Linked DNA regions of Homo sapiens: region 1 is linked to region 2. The links come from fine-mapping of genetic effects on gene expression. A gene starts in region 2. The other region holds a variant in brackets. All regions are shown on one strand. Distances are from middle to middle. Region 1 holds the start of MIR3945HG (MIR3945 host gene). Region 2 holds the start of ACSL1 (acyl-CoA synthetase long chain family member 1).

The links.
Region 1: its variant is fine-mapped to the expression of ACSL1 in whole blood (INTERVAL, PIP above 0.99).

What each region holds. Positions count from the first base shown.
Region 1 is chr4:184,850,535-184,862,144 of GRCh38, forward strand. It overlaps MIR3945HG (MIR3945 host gene), which reads right to left and starts at 5,118. Exons shown (of 3, transcript NR_132989.1): 1 at 4,935-5,118; 2 at 1-65. It overlaps MIR3945 (microRNA 3945), which reads right to left and starts at 576; the gene lies at 479-576. RefSeq lists an enhancer at 26-95. The variant CA/C (reference allele first, on the strand shown) is at 5,562.
Region 2 is chr4:184,819,005-184,830,614 of GRCh38, forward strand. ACSL1 (acyl-CoA synthetase long chain family member 1) reads right to left here and starts at 6,964. Exons shown (of 21, transcript NM_001995.5): 1 at 6,912-6,964. LOC105377587 (a long non-coding RNA gene) reads left to right here and starts at 7,167. Exons shown (of 3, transcript XR_939564.4): 1 at 7,167-7,967. RefSeq lists enhancers at 6,213-6,282, 7,533-8,036, 7,643-7,692, 7,863-8,142 and a silencer at 6,453-7,412.

The sequences.
Region 1 (11,610 bases), 32 kb after region 2:
TGGGACATGAGCCTGAGTCGCAGCAGCCGTCTTGTGACTGAGAGGTGGCAAGCAGGAGGAAGAGGCTAAGAGAATAGAGACACTGTTGAGCTGCTGAAGCACAGCAAGCGGCCACTTCTCTATGCTTCTTGCTATTTGACTGTTAAGCTAGTGCAAGTTACTTTTCTGGTCAGAATGAATTCATAACTGAAACATGCTTTAAAGTATGACTATTATTATTAAATGCAGCATAAGCTTTCCATAGCTGCTACACGATCACACCCACTGCTGTCTCAGACTGACCAGTGGCCGACTAAACATGACAGCAAGTACTGTTGCCAGCCTCTGCCTTCTTATACTTGTGGAGTTTGTTTAAATCTAAATTCAGGACTCACCCTGTTAAATTTTATCTCCTTAGCTTGTCCCCTTCTTTTCAGAGATTTGCAATTCAAATTAGTATTATAACCTCAATTGATATATGGCTGTGGACCAGTCAGGAATCATTGAATCATCCCCCACTTTGGAAAGCATAAGAGGCTGTAATTGCATTTTATATCAACCCTCTCCTATGCCCTCCCCGTCACGTGCATCAACATCTCTTTTCTCTCAGAAAGACCTCATCTTATTTGAGGTGATATTTGAGTACATAGTTCCTTTTAGGGTACTGGGGACCTTTTTGGTGGTAGGGTGGAGAGTGTGCACCACAGAGACTAGTCACCAAGAGTCCCTGCAGTTAAGTCTGCGTATCCTGTGCTGGTGAAGGGTGGATGGGCTTTATGCAAATCTCTGCTTGGCTGCAGAATCTCCCAGTGAGATGAGCAAGGGTGCTTTGCAGTCAGTGTTGAAACCCCAGAAGAGCAGGAAATGATGCTGTTCCTGCCCAAAGGCAGAATGAAATGCAAGGAAAGGAGAAAAACATTATGACATAAGTATTAAGAAAGATGCTGTTTACGGGAACTCTGAAAGACTGGAATTCAGAGCCGCTACCAATTAAGAAAGTTAATGATGACTTGCAGCAGGTTTGCAGAAAGTGAAAGGAAGGTGAGGCTATTTAATTGCCACCATAACAGAAGAACTTGTAGAAAATAGGAATGGGATCACAATCATTATTAACTCATAAAAAATTTATAGGGTGCCATTTCTAATACGACACTGTGCAGGGATACTGCAGTCTAGCGTTACCTCCAGTTTAGACAGGCTGAAATACATACAGTTTCTCATCTGTATGAGATAAGGTGATATAAAATGAAGCTGATCGGGCTAGTTTATTGGATAAAACCAACAACGAAGGGAAATAAGTAACTATTTATACAACATGGTAACTATCTACATTGTTCATTAGCAGACGATGTTTGTAACTGGAGATGAAATGCATTAAGCATGTTTGGGAAAGGAATAAATGGGATGTAACCATGGAAGTCCTATGCTTAACCAGGGTGGGGAGGGGGGCAGGGATATAGAGAACTTCAACTAGACAGGCCTGGTGGAGAAAGTGTGTGTCTAAGAATTACTTGCAAAGTGAGCTGTGTCAGGGAGCATCCTGGTGCATGCTCCAAGATATGTTGGATAACAGTTGAGTACAACTCATGATGGAATTACAAAACTCCAAGATACAGTTGGATAGTTGGGTAACAGTTGAGCATCACCATGATGGAAGAGATGAAGAGACTTTTTGAATGTGTTTGAGAGGAGTGAAATGAATCCTACAATGATAATAATAATAATTGCTATTATTTTTTCAGACACGTGTGAAACCAGAAAAAAATAAATTAGGTGAAAGAATCTTCATTCCTGGTGACACCTTAGAAGAAGAAACAGACAATCTTGGATGGATTTGTTAAAGATCAGAGGATCCATAATGTCATGCAAAATGGTGGGATTGGGGGCAAACAGATCAAGTTGATGAGTGGGGTTAGCAACAGTGAGACCTGAAAGAGAAAACAAGTTAACAGAAGCCAGACTAAGTGCAGGACTAACCTGCACCCTAAGAGGGTGCAGGCTCAGGAACCAGTCCATGAGGAGTTGCACCATAGTAAGGGGTAGAGATGAACTGAAGCTCGCTCATGATTACCAGCGGTATTGGCCTCTCCAAGAACTAAAAATAACCTCCTTCTTTGTCTTGCTGTTACTTCCAAGCCACAGCCGAGTTCTCTCTCTATACTTACACCTCAGATGAATGAGCAGTGCCTGTGGCTGTGGCCAGTGTCTTTTATTCCCACCTGGTTCCTCCCAGTCTGTGTTCCATGTTGTCACTGCCCCAACTGCACAAGCCTTTTCCTAGTCCTCAATCTTTTCTCCCCACAGCAGCCCTGGGCACAGTAGACCTCCCTAGCCTTTTGAGGAACCTCTTCTGTTACCTGACTGCTGTGGTCTACGTGACCATCTTACCTCTTCCTCTGCATTTTCCTTGTGTCTGTCACTGACTCTCTCCCGTGTCCCGCTCCCCAACTGTGGGTGCCCCAGATGTGTCAATCCTCATTCTCCGATCTTCTCTCTTTATACTAGATTCTAATTCACCTTTATTCATCTATACTCCCAGAGTCAAGTTTTGATTATGTATATATAACCAAATGGCATATAACTCTATCTATCTATCTATCTATCTATCTATCTATCTATGCCATCTCATTTCATGTCTTCACGAAATATCTGTTAGCTGTTTTTCTCCAGATTATCATCCTTCCTTAAGTGCTGTTGTGGTAGCAGTGGTGGTGGTAGTAGCAGTAGTAACAGCAACAACCTCTATCATATAGTAAATGCTAACTATATCTCAGGTGCTTTAGTAAAATCTCATTTAAGCCTTTCAATGTTATACATTGATATTGCTGTTGAACACATTTTATAGAGGAGGAAACAATCTCAGCAGGTTTAACGGTGGTTCCCAGTCACACAGCTAACACAGAACACGGCCTTGAACTCAGATTTTGTCTGACTAAAGTTTGTCATCCTATTTCTGTGCTAAAGCTTCTACAGCAGTCCCTGTTGCTTACCAGGTGAGGCCCAGCATCCTCACGGACCATCCCGGATCTCCGTAACGTAGCTCCACTGATCTGCTCCAGTGACTGCCTTCTGCTCCCAGAGTGGCACCTCCTTAACCACCCTCACCTTCCTACGCAGTGAATGAAGTGCAGACATGAATCCTGAGTCTGCCATTTAGTACTTCTCTAAAACTGACTTCTTGTATTTGTAAAATACCCGCCTCACAATCTCAGGATTGCTGTGAGCATCGTATATAATGAGTGCAAAGGGCCCGGCATAGTGCAAGGGACATGATAGGTGCATAACGAATAGGACCCACTGAGGCTGTTACTCATATTTCTGCTCTTGTGCCTTGTTCGTGTTATTCTCTACATATGAAATGTTTGTACTTCCTATTGCTCTGGCCTGACAGTCCTTAAGGGCTAAATTCCATCTTTACTAAATGTTTCCTTGGCTCTAACACACATTGATCTCTCCCCTCCCCAATTCTGAATGCACTTTCTTTTTTCTTTTTTTTTTTTTTGAGACAGAGTCTCGCTCTGTCGCCCAGCCTGGAGTGCAGTGGCGCGATCTCGGCTCACTGCAAGCTCCGCCTCCCGGGTTCATGCCATTCTCCTGCCTCAGCCTCCCGAGTAGCTGGGACTACAGGCGCCCACCACCACGCCCAGCTAATTTTTTGCATTTTTAGTAGAGACGGGGTTTCACCGTGTTAGCCAGGATGGTCTCGATCTCCTGACCTCGTGATCTGCCCGCCTCGGCCTCCCAAAGTGCTGGGATTACAGGCGTGAGCCACCGTGCCCGGCCCTCTGAATGCACTTTCTATATACACCAGGTGGCTGGTGTTATCTACTGTCTTATTCTTGAATGGCTTTGGGTAAGCGAGCCTCATAAGTTACTGGTGAGCTTGCTTGTATTGCTTCTGTGCTCCTCTCAAAGCTACTGGCACACTGTACCAAAGTGATTTGTTCATTGATTGATGGAGAAATGTAAACATTGGGACAAATCAGAGAGAAAAAAGGGCAAATTGGACATTATCTTGTTCGATTTCAGTTGGCAGTCAATGGTTTGTGTTCAAATTATCCTACAGAGGCTTGAACCAGGAGGGGAGGTTCAGAAAACAGATGGTGGGAAAGAGAACAGATCTCTGTATTATGGAGCTTTGACTTTAAAATTATTTCTCTTAAAGAAGAGATAGACCCAAAAGGAAATGATCTGAGATAAATTTCCAGGGACCAGTAAGACAGAAGTACCACTAAATATGAAGAGGCAGTGGACTGGGAATAATGAGAGAAGACCCAGGCAATCATGCCTGTAAGTTACGATAAAGAAAACAGGAAGCACATTTCGACAGAAAAACCATACTTTACATTAAAGAAGTGAGATTGTGTCTGTTGCAAGAGTGAGAGGGAAAGCCCGCAACGACCTCAGGGACCCAGTGAATTAGCTCACGGGAAGCCCAGGGCCTCTTTTGCTAGCTGCTAATGAAGGGAATTAGATAACCATGTTATTTTGAAAGAAAACAGATTATGTTTATTGAATGATCTAAAAGAAGCGAAAAGGGCTAGGTAAAGATGCCATGTTTTGGATTCTGATGTTGGGTCACACCAGGGCGCCCATTCTTCTGTATTCACAAAATGCCCAAATAGGGAGAGGTCTTGCCAGGCGCGTGAACTCGCCACTGTGGCTGAGCAACAAAGGTACATTGAAAGGAAGCGTGTGTGTTTGTGGCTTTGAGCCCCTTTTCCTATTCTGCTGAAGATTAGGAAATTATAGGTTATACTGCTTGAAATGAAGACAGAGTAAATGGTAGGAGGGTTGTAAATCACCTGCGAAGCACCGTCTTCGACCATGCCATATAGCAAGGCTACCCAAAACACTCCAGTCTCTAATTTGTTCAACTTAAAGAATAAGAGGGATATGTCAGTCAGGACCTGCTAACTGCTGTATCAGACAACCCCAGATCCCTAACGACTTACCTCACAGTCATCAGGGGCTAGACAAGTGACCTTCCACACGATAATTCAGAGATACTGCTCCTTTCCTGTAGTTCTCCAGTCCTCAGCACAGGGTCTCAAGATCATCTAGCATCGACCAGTCAGCAAATGTCGGAAGAGGAAAGATAGCTTCCTTAGTCCCTAAGAGACAGCATCTCGTTTTCACTACATTCCACTGGTGAGAACTACTCATATGGCCACACCTAGACACAGCGGTGACTGGAAAGTTAATTTGATTGTGTTTCCAGGAAAAGGAGATAGGCTTGGTGAGTCAGTCTCTCTAGAGGAAAATATGGAACTGGGTTGGATTAAAAAAAATCCAGGCTGGGCGCGGTGGCTCATGCCTGTAATCCCAGCACTTTGGGAGGCCAAGGCGGGTGGATCACCAGAGGTCAGGAGTTCGAGACCAGCGTGGCCAACATGGTAAAACTCCGTCTCGATTAAAAATTAAAAAAAAAAAATTAGCCGGGTGTGGTGGTGGGCGCCTGTAATCCCAGCTACTCAGGAGACTGAGGCAGGAGAATAGCTTGAACCCGGGAGGCAGAGGTTGTAGTGAGCTGAGACTGCACCACTGCACTCCAGCCTGGGTGACAGAGTGAGACTCCGTCT[CA/C]AAAAAAAAAAAAAAAAAAAAAAATTCAGGTAATGATTTATATGTTTCTATCAAGCAATATGCCTATAAACATGGAATGATTGAATTTTCAGTTTCAAATACATGTTTTGGGTTGTGAAGACTCAAAAAGCTTGTGGGTCTCTTTGTTTTTGTCAAAGTATATGAATAAACGAGGATTGCAGAAGTTTACTTGTGGAATGAATGCATTAGTAAATTAATGAAGCTTTCTCCTGTACTGAAAGAAGAGTATAAGGTCATGACTCATGGTCATGAGGTAGGAAATAATTCTGCTCACCAAGAAACAAGGACATTTTAAATATCTAAAAAAGCAGAAATGAGAAAGGAAGCATGAAAAATAATCATTTAGCCAACAGTTACAGCACCTACTGACAGACAGAAAGTACAGGGCATTGACATAGTTTAAATCCAGTGACTTCCGTTTTTCCTAATAGAATCAGAGTGATAATGCATTTTAAAGGTTATTTTTATTATTTCATGTCTCCAAACCATTTTCAGAGGGAAATTATCATGGCTGTCACAACAGTAGCTTAATACACAAGGTTGATGGTATTTTACAAAAGTGTCACAAGTGGATTTTAAAGTTAAAAAAAAAAAGGGGGGCTGAGTGCAGTGGCTCATGTCTGTAATCCCAGCACTTTGGGAGGCTGAGTCGGGCGGATCACCCGAGGTCACGAGTTCGAGACCAGCCTGGACAACATGGTGAAACCCCGTCTCTACTAAAAATACAAAAATTATCCAGGTGTGGTGGTGCGCGCCTGTAATCCCAGCTACTCTGGAGGCTGAGGCAGGGGAATCACTTGAACCCTGGAGGCAGAGGTTGCAGTGAACTGAGATTGCACCACTATACTCCAGCCTGGGTGACAGGGGGAGACTCCATCTCAAAAATAAAAAATAATAAATAAGGTTAAAAAAAAGATCAGTATGATATAGCTTATATGAATAGAAAAGATGATTCTCGAACAATAGCATGAGGCATATGAGTTGAAAATAAAGCCTAGAGGTCTTCACCTACAGCAGAGAAAATTTTCACTCTCCCCCACCCCACAGAAGACAGACAGACCTACCCCAAAATTAAAATGACATTAGCCCCATAAGCATGTTTCCCTCCTCAGGTAACAAAGAAGATACCTCAGTTCTAAATCCACACAGTTTTAAAGATGTCATATATTTAATGCTCTTTTTTTTTTCTTTTTTTTTTGAGATGGAGTCTTGCTCTGTCACCCAGGCTGGAGTGCAGTGGCACGATCTTGTCTCACTGCAACCTCTGCCTCCCGGGTTCAAGCAATTCTCTGCCTCAGCCTCCCGAGTAGCTGGGATTACAGGTGCCCGCCACCACATCCAGCTAATTTTTGAATTTTTAGTAGAGACGGGGTTTCACCATCTTGGCCAGTCTGGTCTTGAACTCCTGACCTCGTGATTCACCTGCCTTGGCCTCCCAAAGTGCTGGGATTACAAGCGTGAGCCACCATGCCCGGCCTAATGCTCATTCTAACTAGAAGGAAGTAAAGCCTCAGAACAGTAAAATGATTTGCCACATGTCACAGTTGCAATAAACAGTTCAAGTCCACTCCATAAAGAGATACTAGCAATCCTACGGTTTGTCGAAAGCCAGGCTTCTCGGATAACAAAATATTCTAGGTTCTTTGACAAAATGGGTGATGGGAAGTAAGGAGGAGGGCCTAGTTTCTGAAGCTGCAGGTCATGTAAGGAGCTTGCCCTCAGGCTGGCAAGGCCTAGGAATGGGGGGTGCAGGCGGCCTTCAAGTGCCTGGGGGCCAAGAGGAAGTGCTGCTGTCCCCTGAAATCTTTTTATGGGAGGAACTGACACTGTGGGTCTGTTCAAGTCCCCAAAATGGGGACAGGCTGGGGGCTGAGGACACAGACTCAAGGCCCCTCATTGGCAGTCATGGCCAGGCCAAGGAGCCCAGCTCAGGGCTGCTGGCTTATTCTCAAGCCCCCCAGGGATGTGAAGAGGGGTGCAGAGACTCACGTTTTGCACCCACGGAGTCCAGGACTGGGGTGTTAGAAGTGGGGTAGATTTAGTGGACACAGCAGATCAAGTGCATGTGAAGAGCGCCGCAGCAGCTCTGCATCTCCCAAAGGTCCCAGCTGGTCCTCTGAAGACCCGGGATCACAACTCCACATCGTCACCTCGGGGTCCCAAAGGTCCCAGCTGGTCCTCTGAAGACCCGGGATCACAACTCCACATCGTCACCTCGGGGTCCCAAAGGTCCCAGCTGGTCCTCTGAAGACCCGGGATCACAACTCCACATCGTCACCTCGGGGTCCCAAAGGTCCCAGCTGGTCCTCTGAAGACCCGGGATCACAACTCCACATCGTCACCTCGGGGTCCCAAAGGTCCCAGCTGATCCTCTGAAGACCCGGGATCACAACTCCACATCGTCACCTCGGGGTCCCAAAGGTCCCAGCTGGTCCTCTGAAGACCCGGGATCACAACTCCACATCGTCACCTCGGGGTCCCAAAGGTCCCAGCTGGTCCTCTGAAGACCCGGGATCACAACTCCACATCGTCACCTCGGGGTCCCAAAGGTCCCAGCTGGTCCTCTGAAGACCCGGGATCACAACTCCACATCGTCACCTCGGGGTCCCAAAGGTCCCAGCTGGTCCTCTGAAGACCTGGGATCACAACTCCACATCGTCACCTCGGGGTCCCAAAGGTCCCAGCTGGTCCTCTGAAGACCTGGGATCACAACTCCACATCGTCACCTTGGGGTCCCAAAGGTCCCAGCTGGTCCTCTGAAGACCTGGGATCACAACTCCACATTGTCACCTTGGGGTTGTAGACCCAGGCAAGTTGTTTGTACTCATGACGGTGCAGCTCCTTTTTTTGAAAGGGGGGAATAAGACAGCTGATCAGTAGGCCAGACCTCAGTGAGCTCACTGTGTGCAAAGTTCACACCTGGAGCAGATGGCAGAGTTGCTGGAGGCTCAAAGGCTCTGAGGCACGTGGAAGTGGCTTCAGGGCAGGGCAAGAGAGGCTGTTACACTTTCCAGTCACCTCCTCTCTGGCACCAGCAACCCATTCTTCCAGATTTTTCCTCACAGTTCCATTATACATTTTCTCCCCATATGATAAAGTGTTGGGTTAGACTGAGGCCATTAAGAAAGGGCTACCTACCTAGATAATATCATAACCTCTATCTATTTAAGTAAAATGTTACTGAAATGTTACTAACAGTCAACATTATTGAATCTTTCATCAGTTGCCAGGTTCTATGATAGATGCTCTTTTTTTACCTTCATTACCCCTCCTTCGGTAACCCCACAACCTGGTGTCTATGACTAGCACCAGTTTACAAATGGGGACACTGAGACGCACAGAGGTTACAACCATCAAATGGTGGAATTGGGACTTGAACTCAGGAAGCCTGAGCTTTATAACCTCCAAACTACATAGCCTTCCTTAGAGAAAACTACTAGATCATGAACAAGTCAGAACAGAGAGTAGAGAAGAAATTTTCCATGGAAGAGCTGATAATTGGAGATTTTGGGGAGAGGGAGATGAAAAGAATTGAAATGGAGAAGAAAAATCCGTTTTTGTGGGGGAAAATATAGAAAGTAAGATTTGTCTTGGAATGAGATTAAAATGAAACCATCAGAGCTGGTTTTATTTATTCATCATATACTCATAAATTAAACATCCATTCATTAGCTAAAATTAAACATCCTATCAGCCTTGAGGGGACTCACAGTCCAAAAACCAGATGTTCCTACACTTCCAAAATCTAGCTCAATGATGAGAGAGGTTTCTGACAGAGAGGGAGTGGAAGTTACTGCCTAAAATAGATCCCTAGGCCAAGGGATATAGAAGAATAACAGTAGCCAAAGATGCCAGGGACCATCGTGTGGATCTCTTTCATCTCATACTCCTGGGGCGCAGGCTGCCAGAGATGAGAGAGAGCTGTGGGGTCTGAGGGATTCCTCCTATCTCCGCACAGAGGAGGTGGGGCGTGGGGCGGTGTCCCTTTGCAGCCATGATCAAGGAAGCAGAGTTTCATTCATCTGGGTTAGACTGCCTCTCCTAATATCAGCCAAGATCAGACAAGAATGAACAAAAACTCAGGGTCAATTAGTTGGGTATGGAGAGGAAATGTAGAAATGAGGCCACTGGGGACTTTTTGCATTGCAAAGCCCTGAAATTCTCGGTTTTGCTATGTTGCAAGAGGAGCCCCAAATTAGCAACGATTTCTTGGAGGAAAGGTGCCCAGCCCTTTCATTTATTAACCTCTGCCTGATATTTTCAGACAGCTTTTCGAATCTCTAGGAGGGTTATGGCCTGGTATAAGCAGAGGAGGGGTCAAGACAATTATCCAAGAGCTATTGCAGGACTATTGTTAAAAGAATAAAAATCCTAGCACCAAAAAAAGAGAAGCTCTGGATCTTTTGAACACCGATGTAAACACCCACTGGGTGGAGTGAGGGGGACTGACAGATCACTAGAGTCCGGATGCCTCTGGAAGCCAGAAAGCCCAAAGCATAGTCGGGAGACAGCAGGATGGCGGACTGAGCAGGCGCCACTCTCTTGCTCCGTAAGTTCCGATCCTCCTGCATCCCTCCCTCATCATCATCGGACCTGGTCCTCTCTGTATTGATGAGGTGTGTGCTCACGGCATAAGCCCAGGAGGAAGAGGAAAATTAACAATCATCTCAGGCCAACATTGATTTCATAATTGCCTCCCTTCTTCCATTTATATTTTCCCCATACATAAAAATACAATGCCCATTGGAAAGATTTGGAAAATATATAAAGGGGCAAAAAAGAAAGAATCTTCTTATAACCCCAGTGTGCGTTACACCCTCCACTAGAGCAAGGGGCTGTTTGTCTTGTTGACCAAGCTCTGTCCCCAGAACCAGAAGAGTAACTGGCACAAGTAGGGGCTCAATAGAATTATCTTTTTTCAATGAATCAATGAATCAATGAATACTCTGAGATTACATCTTAATATCTCATTACACATTGTCCTATATCTCAAAGCATGTGTTTTTAAAAAAATCACTCACACGGTTTTTTTCTACGCATTTTCTATTGTGGTAAAATATACTAACATAAAAGTTACCATTTTAGCCACTTTCAAGTGTAAATTCAGTGGCAGTGTTTCTTCACAATGTGGTTCAACCATTACCACATCCAGTTCCAGAACTTTTTCTGGAAAAAGAAACCGAAACTCTGTACCCACCAGAGAATAATTCTCCATTGGTCCTTCCCCTCAGCCCCTGATAACCTCTATTCTACTTGCTGTCTCTAATAATTCGCCTATTCTAGGTAACTCCTATAAGTGGAATCATAGAGGATTTGTCGTTTTGTGTCTGGCCTATTTCAGTTAGATAATGTTCCCAAGGTTTACTCATGTTGTCACATATAGTGCCATTTAATTCCTTTTAAAGGCTAAAAAATGGCTGGACGTGGTGGCTCATGCCTGTAATCCCAGCACTTTGGGAGTTGACCAGGTGACTCTAAAGTTTATGGGAAAATTAAAAGGACCACAAACATTCTACGCATGTTTGTGCGTGGATCATCTGAGGTGGGTGGATCATCTGAGGTCAGGAGATCGAGACCAGTCTGGCCAACGTGGCGAAACCCCATCTATGCTAATAATACAAAAATTAGCCAGGCATGGTGGCGCATGCCTGTAGTCCCAGCTACTTGGGAGGCTGAGTCAGGGAGAATCTCTTGAACCCAGGAAGCAGAGGTTGCAGTGAGCCAAGATTGCACCACTGCACTCCAACCTGGGCGACAAGAGCGACACTCTATCTCAAAAAAATAAAATAAAAAATAAAGGCTAAAGAATATGCCATTGCATGTATGTCAATGCTACGTGTTGTTTCTCATCCATCTGCTGCTGGTAAGCGTTTGGGCTGTTTCCAGTGTATCCAGTTTGCATCTCCTTCTTTCACTTTATAATTACTAGCATTTCTTCATTTTATTAAATTGCCTTCAGGAAACATTTCCTCTGATTGACTGCCAGTCTCACTATAGGTGGACATGGTAATCTAATCATTTTGGTGT
Region 2 (11,610 bases):
CAGCTGAATGACAGTGAGTGTAGGTGAGGAAGGGGAGAGTCACTCCAGGAAAAGTGCCTCTGAGGAGCAGGGCTCTGTGGGACAAGGAATGGCATTCCAAATAGGCCAACATGGGCATCGTACCATTTAGATGTACTTTTTTTTTTTTTTTTTTTGGAGACAGAGCCTCACTCTATACCCCAGGCTGGAGTGCAATGGCACGATCTTGGCTCACTGCAACCTCTGCCTCCCAGGCTCAAGGGATTCTCCTGCCTCAGCCTCCTGAGTAGCTGGGATTACAGGCGCCTGCCACCACACCTGGCTAATTTTTGTATTTTTAGCAGAGACAGGGTTTCACCATGTTGTCCAGGCTGGTCTCGAACTCCTGACCTCAGATGATCCACCTGCCTTGGCCTCCCAAAGTGCTGAGATTACAGGCGTGAGCTACCACACCCAGCCTAGATGTACTCAACACAAACTTTATCCCAGCAAAAGCACAGACTTGAGTCTAGAGATTTTCAGTGTCTTGATCTTAGCTATAGGATCAAAGACACCATCGGACCAGGACACAGGAAGGTCAGTCAGGCAGATGACAGCACCCAGGTACAGTGTCTTGGGTACACAGACCCATTAACCCCATGCCGCCAGAGTTTGCTTTCTAGAAGCCTCAGGATATGGTGGTTTGGAGAGGAGTGGAGATAGCAGGTAGGAAGCAAGCTGCAGAAGCCCCTGACAGGCAAGGTAAGTAAACACCTGGAGCCTTATGGAGGGGAGCCTGGAAGGCTTCTGCTTAGGAGGGATTTGATCAGAGCTGTGATTTAGAAAAAGCAACCATCCCCCTCTGCACCCTGCCCCTCTTCCTAACAAAGGCCTTCACTGTTTAAATTGGAGGTGACAATTCTGGTTCACGATGGCAATACTGAGAAGGCAAGGAGGAAATGCATGTGTGTTGGGTAATACTGCACAGAGAGGGTCAGAATAAGCAGAACTGCTGACTGACTGGACTTCAGGGCAGAAACCAAGGGCAATACCGACGTCCAGCCATTCTTTGAACAGGCACAGGGCCCGGGAACAAACTCCACACGTGTGCATGGCCAGAGGGTCAGGCAGGTTGTGTTACCTTGGCCAAGTCACCCCCCTCCGATCCCTGCAGACTCCCAAGTAGCTGGGACTACAGGTGCCCACCACCATGCCTGGCTAATTTTTTGTATTTTTAGTAGAGACAGGGTTGCACCGTGTTAGCCAGGATGGTCTTGATCTCCTGACCTCATGATCCGCCCACCTCGGCCTCCCAAAGTGCTGGGATTACAGGCGTGAGCCACTGCACCCGGCCAGTCATGCGTCTCAATTGTTCTCCAGCCTTACAAGACCAATGTCCAGGGCAGGCAAAGCCTTTTATTTTTTAATTCTCTAGAAAGTCACAGCTACATAGCAAGTGATCTTATCACTCCCTGAGCCACGCTGAATCAAAATTTGTGGTCTCTTTCAGCACTCTAGTGGTATAAAGAGATAATTCAAGGCAGAGTGTAAATGAGATGGGGGTAAAATCAAGGAGCAGTGACACCGAAGGAGACCCAGCTCTGTCCTTCCTGTCTTACTGCCAGCTGTATAACCTGGAACTTTCTTTTTTTTTCTTTTGGAGACAGAGTCTCACTCTGTCACCCAGGCTGGAGTGCTGTGGCGCAATCTTGGCTCACTGCAGCCTCCGCCTCCTGGGTTCATGCGATTCTCCTGCCTCAACCTCCCGAGCAGCTGAGACTACAGGCACGTACCACCACGCCCAGTTAATTTTTGTATTTTTAGTAGAGACGGGGTTTCACCATATTGGTCAGGGTGATCCACCCGCCTCGGCCTCCCAAAATGCTGGGATTACAGGCGTGAGCCACCGCACCTGGCCTAACCTGGAACTTTCTAGGCCCTCCTGGAGTGAGAACTTCTAGCTCTGGAGGGGCAGTAGAGCCCAGCAATTAGGAGCACAGACCCTGAAGCCAGACTGCCTAGGTTCAAATTCTGGTATGGGGAACTTAATCTTTGCACCTGTTCCTTTATCTTGTGTACAGTAAGGATAGCAGCAGGACCTACCTTACAGGGTTGCTGAAGGTACTAATGAGTTAACCCATCAGAAGCTTAGCAGCACCTGGCTCTGTCTGCTGCTCTCATCACTGCTCTGTTCCTAAGCCTGGCCGTGTCCAGGCTGTGGCTACCACCTCGGTCAGCTACCACAGCCCTGCTTTGTGGCAGACACCTGGACCCTGAAGGAGAAACTAGCTCCGGAAGCACTTTCTCATGACTCTGCTTAATAAAGGAATAAATAGTATTCAGAGTGTTTCAGTCCTTCTTATATGGACATTTCTCCCACAACAAACCTAAGGGGAAAGTGCCCATTTCTATAGCAGCCAAAGCTGTGCTAATGGATAGAGCCTACATTTATCAGAAGTCCCCTCCAGAATGAGGAAATGGTCTACAGGCAGGCCCCGTTTCCTCCTCTGATGCCCTAACTTCTTTCCATTTCTCTTTCCAAACCATGAAATCCCTATTTCAACTGCTTTTGACTAGAATACATGAACCCAAAAGTCCATTAAACCTATTCATTAGTAAAAACACTTTTCAAATTATTGTTAATTTCAAGAGTTTTAAAGCAGAACATTTTTTATTTTTTAAAGACGTATTTAAACATATAACAAAGGTTGGTAAACTGTTCTGAAAAATATCCAACAAATGGGGAGAAGTAACTAAATTATGGCCCATACAGCAAATAATGCAGTCATCTTCAGAACTTATTTTTTGAAGAATATGTAACAACGTGTAAAAAAGCCCACAATATAACTTAGGTGATAAAGTTAAATTGTCAAAATTGTAATCTTTAATTAACAATGTATGCTTAAAATTTGTTTATTGTATAGGGAAAAAAGACTGGAAGGAAATATAACAAAATGTTAATAGTATTTAATCTCTGGAAGAGCTTCATTTTTCCTATTTCCCAAATTTTCTCCAGTAAGTATGTATGACTCTTAAAATATGAAAAACAAATACAGCTTTTCTGTGGCAAGTGGTTTTTAGATATTAGACAGCTTTCAGAATTTTATTTAAACTTGAAGACCAGCAAATAATTCATAAAGAGAATCAGCCCAGGCACCTATATGGAACCACCAGTTTTGAGATTTTATTTTATTGTTTTTACTTTTTTTTTTCTAGAGATGGGGTCTTGCTCTGTTGCCCAGGCTGGTCTTGAACTCCTGGCCTCAAGCAACAAGCTATTTGCCTCCAGATGATCACATCCTTCTAAGGCAGGCAGCACAGGGGAGCAGGGCCCTTACTCACCTCCACTTAAGTTTTTGTCCAAGGGTGACACCCTCCAAGCCAGCCACACTTCAAGGAGTCTCCAATATTTCACCCGCCCCTCTTGATTCCTCAAAGGTCATAAGTGAATCAATACTGTGTTGTTTCTAACACAGTCAAGAACATGAAAGTGGGCTGGGTGCAGTGGCTCACGCCTGTAATCCTAGCACTTTGGGGAGGCCAAGGAGGGCAAATCGCTTGAGCCCAGGAGTTCGAGACAACTGGGCAATATGGCAAAACCGCTTCACTACGAAAAAAATACAAAAATTAGCTGGGCATAGTGATGTGCGCCTGTAGTCTAAGCTACTGGAGAGGCTGAAGTGGGAGGATCAACTGAGCCCAGGGAGGTGGAGAGGCTGCAACGAGCCATGATCATGCCTGTACTCCAACCTGGGCGACAGAGTGAGACCTTATCTGGGAAAAAAGAAAAAAAAAAGAAAGTGAAAATGTCATGATGTAGAAAATGAACATAACTCAGATTATGTGATAGTTTTCTCTTCTTGCCATTATATACAACCCAAGGCTTGCCACAAACTGAAATTTCTTATGCATTGACATTCAGCATTTGATGTAAAATGACAATCTTAGAGTCGCTGCCACAAACCCTGGTAAAACTGCCCCTGCCTTCTCCAGTTCACTAAGTTCAGCTACTCCTTCAGGGCTTGTGCTCCTTTAAAACTTTTCAGAAGCCCCTTGAAGTACCAACATGTTGAAACTCAAACTCAACTGCCTGCAGCTTCAGATCAGCTCTGGCCACTGAGAATTCTTCTCCAGGCCCCAGTGTCAAAGGCACTTTTGACCATCATGTGTTTGTCTGACTACCAAGTTGGACTGCCAACCTTCACTAAAAACTCCGGCACCTTTATCTACCTCCTGTCAGATCACCGCCTGTCAGAGAGGGAGGCCTAAAAAGGCTTCAGGATATCAACAGCTTTGAGCTGCCTTAGAGGAACTTCTTTTCTATTTTGTAGTACAGGAGCCTCATGCACTGCATCATCCAAACAAGACTCTCCACAAAACATTACTAATGGATTCTAATTGAACAGAGTTTGGTTACAAGAGACAGTAAACACAAATGGGCACCTGTTTTAAATGGCAAACTTACACAATAAATTCAATTGATCTTAAAAACTAAACATTCCTCTAAGGTTACTGACTATAAATATCTAGAAATTACTACTCCTATAGTCTTGCTATTTCCAGACAAGTGAAACTGGAAGGGAGAGAGGAGAAATACCCAGTTATAATGACAAGACAACCTTATCTTTTCTCAAAAGCCTCCCCAAACACACAACCATTTTCCACAAAACAGTTACATCAAAAAAGATGTAGCAAGACCTAGACATTAAGCATGCTAGAAAGTAGGGACAGTTTTACCAGTGTTTGTGGCAGCAACTCTGAGATAGTCATTTTACATCAAATGCTAAATGTCAATGCATAAGAAATTTCAGTTTGTGGTAAGCCCTGGGTTATATATAATGGCAACAAGAGAAAACTATCACATAATCTGAATTACGTTCATTTTTCTGCATACACCATGCATGCTGGTACACTTTCAGTTAGCCTAAACTTCACCCAAAAGTAGAGGTGGCTATGAAAACTCTACCTGCATGGTATAAATAGATACCTAACCCTACATGCATGGGTCACTTGTATCTACCTCCTAAATACCAAAAACTTAGAAGCCCAGATTTCTTTTCAGTCAGGCTGCCTGCGATAACAATAAAAATACTGCCAAAATAGGAACAACAGAGACAGGAAGGAAATATGCCAAAATGCTTATAATTGTGGGGAAGGGTAATTTTTTGTTTTGTTTTGTTTTTTACAGAGTCCTGCTCTGTTGCCCAGTCTGGAGTGCAGTGGCGGGATCTCAGCTCATCACAACTTCTGCCTCCTGAGTTCAAGCGATTCTCCTGGCTCAGCCTCTCGAGTAGCTGGGACTAGAGATGCATGCCACCACGCCTGGCTAATTATTTGTATTTTTAGTAGAGATAGGGTTTCTCCATGTTGGTCAGGCTGGTCTCGAACTCCTGACCTCAAATGATCTGCCCGCCTCGGTCTCCCAAAGTGCTGGGATTACAGTGAGCCACCACGCCTGTCTGGGTAATTTTTTTTTAAGTATTCTGTTTACAGTAAATTCAGAAAACAGAAGTCTTTAATATGTCTGTTTTAAAGGGGAGAGGTATAAGGTGTGCGGCTAACAAGTTTATTTTTCTAGTCGCAGAATTTGGACTCGTGAAAGATTTTAGTCTAATGCAGTTTGTTCACAAATATAAGGAGGGGGGCCTCAGACTAGGGAGGTGTTTTCCGAGTTGAGTCAGAACAAGAAAGTAAGTCTCCCAAGACCTGGTCCTTTTCCACTATATCACACTGCACTGTCTGGCTCCAATCTGATGGCGAGCAATGGTTCCTTAAAAAGCTCCATCTTCTCAAGCCTACCCAGCACAGACCTACAACTCAAACTTTAAGTTTTAGCCAGCCTAACCTTCCACGTCCACTTGAAAAAAGAAAAAAAAGAAAGAAACAATCAACCGGAAGCCTTTGATTTTTTTGCTAGCAAGAAGCCAATAATTGTTTTCTTTGGGACAATCACAGGTTAAGTTGTGAAATGGGTGGCAGAAACTGCAAGATTTAACCAGTTTCTCTCAACGCTAATCAAAGGTCAAGAAAATAAAAGACAGGGCAGTGAGAGTCGCGGGACTTTAGACACTCCTGCACCAAGAAGCTTAAAAGTCTTAGCCAGGGCACTAGAGAACGCTTTTAGAATGGTCACTCTTAATTATGCTCCATAACCTTGAAATTGGACTGAGTGGGGAAGGGGTTTCCACACTCTCACAACGCACCGACTGGGGGAACGCCTGTCCCCAGACTCGAATCCACGTGTCCATTCAAGTCATCTACCGCCACTCTCCGTCTACGCTGCCAGGTGACAGACATCATCTTTGCTTCTCAATTTCAAAAAATGCCAGCACTCCTTAGATCAATGACTCCACGGCCAAGTGCAAGGGCCACGGGCACTCCTCTGGAGTCACCGAGAGAATGTCTGCCTCTGGCAGCGGCCTCTGAGCTGCCTGTGGGCCTCGTGCCGCCGCGCTGCGTGGGGCCGGCATCTCAGCGGGCGCGAGTGCAGTCTCGCCCCACGCGCGGTCCGAACGCCCGCGAGCCCGGCCTCTGGGCAGGCGGGGGCCGCGGACGAGGGCAACGTCAGCGGCCCAGCTGGGCCACCTCCTCCCAGCCGAAGCGCGGCCTCCGGCTGCTTCGCCGGGCCGGTCCCCGCCGCCGCACACACAAGGGTCGGTCCCGCGCGCATCCCCGGCCGCGCACCAGCCCCGCGCCCGCGCCGCCCGCGACTCAGACACAGGAAGCTGCGGCAGCACGGGCACCCCGGAGGCCTCCGGCTGCCGAGGGAAGCGGGGCCGCGGGCAGGAGGCCGGAAAGGCGGCGCGGCCCCACGAGCCTGGGGTGGCTCACGCGCCTCCGCGGCGGCCGCTGCTCCGGGCTCGGCCCTGAAGGGCAACGTCAGCCGGCGCCTCGGCCGGGGCCCGGGCACCGCCGCGGGAGCAGGCGCGGCTCCGCACGGCGGGCGCACTCACCTCCTCCGTGGACCGGCCGCTCCGCCGCCGGCTGTCACTGCAGCCCACTCCCTGCCCCGCGCCGGCTCTGGATGCTATTTAAGGCGCCGCTGGCGCCGCCGCCTCGGCCCGCTGGTTGCGCCCCCGCCACCGCCGCGGCTGAGCCAGGATGCTGCTGGTGCGCTCGCCGCGCCGGCCCCGCCCTCCCGCGGCCCCGCCCCGCCCGCAGGCCCCGCCCCCGGCAGGCCCCGCCCCGCCGAGCGCCCGGCCGCCCTCCTGTCTGGGCGCGCGTGGCTGGCGGGTGGCCGGCGGTCGAGAGGCTGCGGCGGGCGAACGCCGCTGGAGTCGCCCAGACTGCCTCGGATTTCATAATGAATCTGAGGAAGGACAAAGGGTACATTGGACCGCCTCAGCTCAGAGGCCCCGCGGACCCTGGGCCCCGCGATGCCCGAGGGGCGGGCGGCGCCCTCCGGATCCTGCACCCTCAGCCCGTGCCCCGCTGGCCTCCTGGCAGGCCGGGCAGAATTCTGCTGCGAGGGCCCTGGAGGCAAGGGCCTTCCTCTCCGTTTTTCCTTGACACTGACGGGCGCGGCCCCACAGGGTTTCCCCCACGCTCCCTGGCCGGAAGACCTTTTCTGTCTGGTGTCTGCAGAGCCTGACGTGGGCAGCGCCCGCAGCTCGCGCCGGTGCAGGGGAGCTGAGGGCCGACTGCGCGCTGCACCACGGCGGCCACCTGCTGTGCGGTTCTGAGGGCTTCCGCGGTTCTGAGGGCTTCCGCGTCCCTGCCATGCCCATCTTGGGGCTTCAGAAGCCAACACGATGGTTTTCGGGCTCACATCCCAAAGGCTGCTCTTCCTTTTAGCACCTGGGACCTACCAGGAACCTCAACCTCTAACAACATTGGTCCCCGTTACCGTGGAGTTTGCGCCCAGCGTTCGCTGGAGGGCCGTTTGAAGAATGATTGTTGTCGTAAAGGCCTTTGATAATAATAGATACTGTTTACCCAGTGCTTGATGCCAGGCATTGCTACAAACACTGCGTACACATTATTCTATTTAATCTTCATAACCCAGTGAGGTAGGTACTGTCATTACTGTCCTTTCACAGAAGAGGAAGCTGGGGCACAGAGGTTAAATGCTAGTGAGAGCAGTACCACACTTGGCACTCAGGCTGCCCCCAGAGTGTGGGCACAACCAACGCAGGGCTATGCCTGGGCTGCAGGCAGGGGAAACTGACCGTGGTTCGCTCCAGGCCTCAGCCACACTGCAGTTCACTCCCACAAATAACTGAAGGACTTTCCCTGGGTGTCTCCCACAGTGTGCTGGGCGCAGTGGTGCAGTGGGGTGAGGACAACGCACACACCAGCAACCTCTCTAGCAGCTCAGTCCTTTTAGATCTCCATCTTCCAGATCTAGAAAAAATGGACTCCACGTTCGTTTTCACTGGTTCCCGCTTGGCTAATCCCTGGTTTTTCTGTCCAGATCTCGCCTCCCCATCCGTGATTTTGTCATCTTTGCCTCTCCTTTTTCCTCTTCTCCAACCGGTCCCTCAGCCCCAGAACCTCTGCAGGCACCTCCCAAGTTCTGTGGTCTATTGTTTTCAAGGGCTGCTGGAACGAAGTACCACACACTAAGTGGCTTCAACAACCGAAATGTATGGTCTGTCCTGGTTCTGGAGACTAGAAGTACAAAATCACGGCGTGGGAGGGCTGGCTGCTTCCGAGGCCCATGAAAGAGCATGTGTGCCCGGCCACTCTGACTTGCAGATGCCCATCTTCTCCCTATGTCTCCTCACACCATCTTCCCTGTGGTGTGTGTGTGCAAATCCCTTCTTTCTATAAGGACACCAGTCATACTGGACTAGGGCCCACCCGAATTGCCTCATTTTAACTTGATGACCTCTGTAATCATGAGGTAATGTCCAAGTAAGGTCCCATTCTAAGATACCTGAATGCCCAGGCACGGTGGTTCATGCCTGTAATCCCAGCACTTTGGGAGGCCGAGGCAGGCAGATCAACTGAGGTCAGGAGTTCAAGACCAGCCTGGCCAACATGGTGAAACCCTGTCTCTACTAAAAATAAAAAAATTAGCGGGGCATGGTGGTGCGTACCTGTAGTCCCAGCTACTCGGGAGGCTGAGGCAGAAGAATTGTTTGAACCCAGGGAGGTGGAGGTTGCAATGAGCCAAGATCACGCCACTGCATTCCAGCCTGGGAGACAGAGCAAGACTCTGTCTCAAAACAACAACAACAACAACAACAAACCCCTGAACATATGAACTTGGGGAATGTGGGGGTGACAATTCAACCCGTAACATGTGGATGGTCGTCACTGGCTGTCTCACCTTACGTCTTCTCCTCAAGACACTTTTCTTTTAAACTGGGTGCCTCTCCCTGGGCTCTAGCCCTTAATGAGGTGATTTCCAACTCAAGGCTGGGAAAGGCACACAACCCAGTATCAGACCTGAGTTCACACTCCTTCTGGCAGGAACTTCTAGGTGACATTGGGAAGCAACTTCATTCCTTAGAACCTAGATTTCTCCTCAGGCTATAAGGGGGCTTGGCTAAATAATCTCTTAGGTCTCTTTCAGCACACACACTTAAAAAAAAACAAAAAAGTTTTTATCTAATCACTCCAAAAAGTTTTACAATGTATGGGGTTGTCTTGTGGACTTGAGATAGAGACTTTGATGGGAGGCAGTATTGCATAGTGGTTAAGAACACAGGCTTTGGGGTGGGTGAATCCACATCAAGCCTCATTGCATCCTCCTTAAATCAGGAATAATACCTACCTCAGACAGGTGTCATAGGATTGACAGCCACGCCCTTGGCGTTCTCATTAAATGAAGATTCCAGACTCTATAGTTGGGAGTTTGTGACTTAGGTAAGAAACCAGTCTCTTTTTTTGAGACGGAGTCTCACTCTGTTGCCCAGGCTGGGGTGCAGTGGTGCGATCTCGGCTCACTGCAATCTCTACCTCCTGGGTTCATGCCATTTTCCTGCCTCAGCCTCCCAAGTAGCTGGGACCACAGGCACCCACCACCACACCCGGCTAGTTTTTTGTATTTTTAGTAGAGATGGGGTTTCATTGTGTTAGCCAGGATGGTCTCGATCTCCTGACTTCGTGATCCACCCGCCTTGGCCTCCCAAAGTGCTGGGATTACAGGCGTGAGCCACCGCGCCCGGCCTTTTTTTTTTTTTTTTTTTTAAATGAAGGACATGATTGTTTTTAAAAATTGGGCCAGGTGCGGTGGCTCACACCTGTAATCCCAGCACTTTGGGAGGCAAATGCAGGAGGATTGCTTGAGTCCGGGAATTCAAGACCAGCCTGAGCAACATAGTGAGACCCTCCGTCTCTAAGAAAAAGTTTTTAAAAATTGTGTCACAGTGATCACAATGACCACTATTCACATCATAATGGCTTTTCTTTTGGCTATTAACACTGCAGTGTTTTTGTATACTGAAATGTGTCTGTGGGACCAACAGCATTAAAGAATAAAGATCCTAGATGAAAATAAACACTAATAATCCTGGTGTCCTCTCCAATAGAATTAATCTAAACTCCTTATGAATCAGTAGCATTATAATGTTATGTAGTTATGAGGAATAGAATTCTTTTAGAAGCAGGCAGCATGAACTTATACTTCCTTGTACTTACTTCTTTAAGAAACCAGTCTTAACCCTCCTTTCTACTGTCTTTTTTTTCAAGCATCTCTCTAGCCAAGGGAATAAGAGCCAATTGGATATTGTAGTGGTGCAAATTTCCTAGCGGAAATTTGAGTCTTTTTTCGGTCACTCCTGCCCTTGTTACATTTTGGCCTGATTAAAATGTTGTGGCTAATTCTGGCTAAATCCACATTGACATCTGCCTAACACCGATTGATCAATCTCCTGGAGAAGCTAAAGAGAACTGGGCCGGGTGCAGTGGCACATGCCTGTAATCCCAGCATGTTGGGAGGCCAAGGTCGGCGGATCACTTCAGCCCAGGAGTTTGAGACCAGTGTGAGCAACATGGCGAGATCCTGTCTCTACAAAAAATACAAAACTTAGCCCAGCATGGTGGTGTGCACCTGTAGCCTATAGTCCCAGCTACATGGGAGGCTGAGGTGGGAGGATCTCTTGAACCCAGGAGGTCGAGACTGCAGTGAACCGTGATTGCACCATTGCACTTTGGCATGGGCAACAGAGCAAGACCACATCAAAAAAAAAAAAGAAAGAAAGAAAAGAAAAAAAGAATCGAAGTCTTTCTGGGTCAAGCTGATTAGCAGGTTTACAGTGGCCTTGTCTCAAAAGTTCCCACTTGTGATTAGGAACTACAAAGCTGTGATTATTATTAATCTTCTGCACCTATTGCTTTTGAGCATGGCTATCTGAAGTATAGCCACATCAATTAATAATGGCCGATGAGCTTTTAATTACAGACCTCGGTAATTGGCTGGTTAAAGGAAGATTGGCATCAGTAACTGAGTTCTTTTTGTTCAATCCATTTTGGGACTGCAACTATATTAGGCATACATCCATGCCCCCATGAAACTGTAAGGGACTGGAAGGAGGCAGTGTGTCCCGTGAATCCTCATGAACCATCCCAGTCTTTCTTACTCCCCTGCACGTCCTCTTCATTTACACAGAGTAGGTATTCAATTGTTGAGTTGGACACATTTTTCTAACTACTCGATGTCAACCAAGGGTAGATCCACGTTTGGAGCCTTAAACTTACACAGTT